Regions from separate parts of the Homo sapiens genome. Here region 1 is linked to region 2. The links come from fine-mapping of genetic effects on gene expression. Tissue or cell type: thyroid. Region 2 holds a variant in brackets; the other region holds the start of a gene. All regions are shown on one strand. Distances are between the middles of the regions.

The links. PIP is the estimated chance that this variant, and not a neighbour inherited with it, causes the effect.
Region 1: it holds the start of NKX2-1-AS1, and the variant in region 2 is fine-mapped to the expression of NKX2-1-AS1 in thyroid (GTEx, PIP 0.95).

The regions. Positions count from the first base shown.
Region 1 is chr14:36,518,078-36,520,739 of GRCh38, reverse strand. NKX2-1-AS1 (NKX2-1 antisense RNA 1) reads right to left here and starts at 1,462. Exons shown (of 2, transcript NR_103710.1): 1 at 1,061-1,462. It overlaps NKX2-1 (NK2 homeobox 1), which reads left to right and starts at 508. Exons shown (of 3, transcript NM_001079668.3): 1 at 508-687; 2 at 1,370-1,755. The coding sequence starts at 611. SFTA3 (surfactant associated 3) reads left to right here and starts at 1,184. Exons shown (of 5, transcript NR_161365.1): 1 at 1,184-1,272. RefSeq lists enhancers at 1-92, 93-1,092, 2,251-2,662.
Region 2 is chr14:36,552,463-36,555,303 of GRCh38, reverse strand. The region is part of intron 1 of LOC105370453 (a long non-coding RNA gene); the gene reads right to left. Among named protein-coding and RNA genes, the nearest start is that of NKX2-8, 29 kb to the left of the region's middle. The variant T/C (reference allele first, on the strand shown) is at 1,693.

The DNA of each region.
Region 1 (2,662 bases), 34 kb after region 2:
TTCCGCCCGGCAACAGACAGACGGGCACTCACGCCGCTCCCTGCTCGCGCGCTCCCTGAAGCATCAGAGGGGAAAACAGCGTGGCTCTGGGCTCGGGTGCTGGGGCTGTGATGTCCTCGGAAAGTCAGCTCCAGCCCCAGATCCCCGCGTGTCTGGGAGATGGGCGAGGGTCAGGGACACCAGGTTTGTTCGAGGTGGGGCAACTTCAGTGACGGACCCTCCCGTGAGACCCCTTCCCATCCTCCCAGCTCTGGGGGCCAGTGCTGTGTTTGCTCGGCCGGGGGTGGGGGGGGGGGGGGAAGACCTTGGGGGAGGCGTGTTAGCGGGGGTGGCCCACTGAAAAACCCCTGAGCTGCGGGGGCGGGTTGTGGCTCGGGGATCCGGGACAGCCTCCGGGAGGCAGTCGATCCCCTACTCAGCGCCCCCTCCGCCCGCTCGGATTCTCTCCGGTAGGGGGAAAGGGGGCGGGGAGCAGAGGTGTCCCTCTGACGGCGGCAGAAGAGAGGCAGACAGACTGACAGACACGTAGACCAACAGTGCGGCCCCAGGGTTCGTCCCCAGACTCGCTCGCTCATTTGTTGGCGACTGGGGCTCAGCGCAGCGAAGCCCGATGTGGTCCGGAGGCAGTGGGAAGGCGCGGGGCTGGGAGGCCGCGGCGGGAGGGAGGAGCAGCCCCGGCAGGCTCAGGTGAAACCCCCACCCTGTCCCTCAGCCCCCTCCTCCTAAAGACCTGTCCGTGCCCGGGGAACCCCGACCGAATTGGAAAGTGGTTCCACTTTGTAACTCCGCAAGTTGGTTGCAAAGCAGCATTCACCTTCCTTCCTCTCAACCATCTCTCCTCCTCTGTTACTCCCCCACCCCACCTCCTGCCCTCCCCGCTCTCGGTTCCCTCCTCCTTCCCCTCCCCTCCACCTCCTCCCCGCGCTCCGCTGGTACCCCACAAAAAATGGGGGTGGGGGTGTCCAAGGGAGGGGGGAAATGCTTTGGGTCTCGTCTCTGCCTCTCTCTCTCTCTCTTTGAGACCTAAAAATCCTGACAAGTGAAACTTAAAGGTGTTTACCTTGTCATCAGCATGTAAGCTAATTATCTCGGGCAAGATGTAGGCTTCTATTGTCTTGTTGCTTTAGCGCTTACGCCCCGCCTCTGGTGGCTGCCTAAAACCTGGCGCCGGGCTAAAACAAACGCGAGGCAGCCCCCGAGCCTCCACTCAAGCCAATTAAGGAGGACTCGGTCCACTCCGTTACGTGTACATCCAACAAGATCGGCGTTAAGGTAACACCAGAATATTTGGCAAAGGGAGAAAAAAAAAGCAGCGAGGCTTCGCCTTCCCCCTCTCCCTTTTTTTTCCTCCTCTTCCTTCCTCCTCCAGCCGCCGCCGAATCATGTCGATGAGTCCAAAGCACACGACTCCGTTCTCAGTGTCTGACATCTTGAGTCCCCTGGAGGAAAGCTACAAGAAAGTGGGCATGGAGGGCGGCGGCCTCGGGGCTCCGCTGGCGGCGTACAGGCAGGGCCAGGCGGCACCGCCAACAGCGGCCATGCAGCAGCACGCCGTGGGGCACCACGGCGCCGTCACCGCCGCCTACCACATGACGGCGGCGGGGGTGCCCCAGCTCTCGCACTCCGCCGTGGGGGGCTACTGCAACGGCAACCTGGGCAACATGAGCGAGCTGCCGCCGTACCAGGACACCATGAGGAACAGCGCCTCTGGCCCCGGATGGTACGGCGCCAACCCAGACCCGCGCTTCCCCGCCAGTAAGTGAGGCCGCCCCACTGCGGGGCCGCGGGCTGAGCTCAGGAGGTGCGGCGAGAGCCGTCCAGAAGGCGCGGCGCCGGCAGGCTGCGCGCTGGGCATCAGGGAGGGCGGCCCGGCAGCGGCGCCAGGGACTTGGGTGCGGGAGCTGGGGATGCTTCCCCCTGCTCGGCTGGGGGTCCAAGAACAGGCACTTGGTAGCGCTGGGGTCCTGCGGTCAGATGCGGGTACTCGGCGTCTCCTAGGCGCGGTGGACTGGCAGCTCTGCTCGGCGCAGAAGACCTCGGGGAGCCAAGGGAAGCGACCCCGAGCTCAAGGAGCAGGGGCGAGCAGAGCGCGGAGAGGCTAGACCGGGCCAGGAGGGAGGCTGCCCTGTTGGGAGGCACTCGAGCGCCCGGCCCGGCCCTCTCTCCAGCGGAGTCTGGGCAGGTGGGAGGACTCGCAGTTCCAGAGGGGACTCTAAGGGTCCGAGCAGGTGCCCTCACTGGGGCCTGACAGGAGAGAAGCCAAGAGGCAAAGCGTCTGGGGGCTCCAGCTTTTGGAAGTCAACACCCCCTCTCCTAACCTCTCCAAACTGGGGTCTACCGTAGGACCCCAGCTCCCGGCCTGAGCCCAGTTCGCCGCCTGTGGCCAGCTAATCCTAATGCTCTGACCCGGGCTGGGCACGAAAGGAGCAGAAGCGGCCTTTCCCCCACTGCGTCTTTTGGTTCGAAAGAGGGAACTGAGACTGAGGGAGGGCAGCCAGGGTTGGGGCTGTGAGCGCTCCAGTACAGCCCCCTCGACGGTACGGCCTGGGGCAGGCGCTGGCAGTTCCCCGCGGATGGGCCTCTTGGGCCCCAGCGCTAGGCTGCCTGGGTCAGGAGGGCGCCGTCGGTTGGGGCGGGCCGGGCGGGCCAATGGCGCGGAAAA
Region 2 (2,841 bases):
TATTTACCCCATATTCAGCCTTCTGTGAATTACAGACATGTTAAGCCATGGACTACCTGCAAGTGAACAAGGATTTGGCCTACTTACTGACGGATGAATGCTAACTGCAAGAGAAACTCCAGGTGTAAAAATATTTTCATCCAGAGGTTGAGAAAAGCTGGAATCTGAAAACTGAAAATAAGCTCATCTTTTTCTTCAAAATAATTAAAAATCTTACTTGTTCCATGAGAGTGTATTGAATATAGAATATAGTCTATGTCACGTTTTTATGAAAAGAGTGATGTCCATTTCAAGGAATGATGTTTTACAGAGAGGAATAATTGAGGGATCTGCCTAAGGAGGCTTTTGTTTTTGTTTTTGGAGTGACCACAAAATGAGAGTAAGTCTATAACTGAGGTCTTTGGAATAAAGCTACAGGGTTATTTTGAAATATTCTCACTGCAGTGATATACTACTGGTAACTTATTAGCAATAAAGAATGGAATTGGTACTATCCCTTAAGATAAAAGGGAAAATAATATTTATACTAAAAATAGCGATTATCTTCTAATGTGGTCTAAACTGCCAGCCAATTGTGTTGACCACTGCCATTTTGGAGCAACACAATTCTGTGACTTTAGAGCACGTCTTGACATGAGGCAGAAGCCTCCCACATGCTCTAGCATACTGGAACCTCTTGGATGGGTCAGAGATTAGTTTTACTTACAAGGAGCACACACAACAGTCCTGCTGCACTGTGGGTATGGGTTCAAGTGTTTGAGGTCTTAGAGAACATCTAATTGCCCACTTATTTCATGCAGGAGCAAATGCAGGCCCAGAGAAGTCCAACAACATTCTCTAGAGCTCTCAGTTCGTTAGGCGTAGAGTTGAGGATGGCATTAAGGCCTTCTGATTTTTTTTAAACCATATCTCTTTCTTAAAATTTGCCAGCCCTGATTTTCTCAATAAGAGAAGAATTGAAATTATATCTATGAATTATTAAAATATAGTGATACAACGTGCTGGTTGTGAGGGAAAAATAAGCTGAATATGATCACAAAGAACATTGTCATCATCCACCCAGGATACCACCTGGATAAAGGGAGGATTCAGTTACAGTACAGGAGAGATACTGCCTCTTTGTCCTTTTAACACTGTGATCCCGAAATGCTATTTCTACATTTGTGAGTTAACAGAACTTAGTGTAACATATCCACTTGAACTTTTTGCAGTGGTGGAAATGTTAGATATCCGTATTAGCCAATACTGGAGCCAATAGCCACATGTGGCTTTGAGCATTTAAAATGTGGCTAGGGCAGCCAAAGAACTAAATTTTTAATTTTATTTAATCTTAGCTAATTTACATTTAGATAGCTGCATGGGGCTAGTGGCTATTCTATTGGACCTCACAGATTCAGCATAGCCTGTTGGAAGAGCTATTATAAATTCAGATAATGTCAGTGAGCTAGAGACCTCTGGTGGAGGGGACTGTTACCTGCAAGACGCTGAGCACAACTTTTTTTTTTTTTTTTTTTTTTTTTTTTTTAAGACGCAAACATTTCAAGATTGGTCACACATTTTAATACCAACACCACTGCTTAATGTGACATGCAAATTCTCTAGGCAGTAAGGGATGGAATAACAAAGAATGCAGAGACTAACTATTATATTGATTAATATTTGCTGTGGTGATACCAAGTTTCTGTTACTAGG[T/C]TTAACAGGACCCTAGAAGGATAGTTTAACTAGAAGGATAGCTATATTGTGGTTCTCTGGCACGAGAAATGGAATGTCCCAGGTCCCCAGGCAGATCTAGAAGCATTCTTTGTGATGGGAGATAGTCTCAAGCTGTATCAATTAAGAGGTGATGTAGCTTGGCGGAAGTCTGCACCAAGTTCAAGACAATGGCTGTTTGAGCACGTTGCTAGAAAACAAATGCCAGTGCTGTTTCCACCTCCTCGCCGACACACAACCACATACGGTTGCCTCCATAAAGCTAAGGTAACCTGTTGCTCTTAAGGTAGGTTAAAAAGAGAGATTTGGGGCCTTTTTACCCCTCTTAAGTAGCGCTCCCTACAATGGAGTTCACCGATGTATTGGGTTCCTTTCTGACCCTACTGTTTTCCACATCGCTTGTTATACTCTCCAGGAAATTTGAGGCCTCCTTTTTCCTTCTCTGGTAATTCTTACCTCTTCTCAAATTTATCTTTGCTTGGCTTCAATCCTGCTTCCATGACTGAAAGCTACAAAAGTGCCTAAGACAGAGATTGCTAGCTGGCTTTAATAGTTGTCAAAAGTAATAGAACTAATTTTTAGCTAGCATTTTCTAAATGTAAACTACTTAAAATAATGCTCAATATATGCTGGTTATTATTATTCGTGAGAATTAGAAATATCTTATATAGCCAAGTTCGTCATTTATGGCTTCTGAATTTCTGGCTTATGTAAGTTCCCACGTACATTAAAGGGATCCAAATGTCTTCCTAAAGACCCATGGATGGTTTGGCTACACATTTAGAAAATCAGTGACACTCTATTAAATATGATTGGAATTAATAACTTAAATTGGAAAAGTAGCTAGATATAAAATTTTAAAGAAAATATACTAATCAGCCAGGCATGGTGGCTCTTGCCTGTAAATCCCAGCACTTTGGGCAGCCAAGATGGGAGGATTGCTTGAAGCCAGGAGTTTGAGATCAGCCTGGGCAACATAGTGAGATACTGTCTCTACAAAAATTTTTTTAAAAACTTAGTTGGACATAGTGATGCACACCTGTAGTCCCCAGCTACTTAGGAGGCTGAGGTGGGAGGATCCCTTGAGCCCAGGAGGTTGAGGCTGCTGTGAGGCATGATCGCACCACTGTA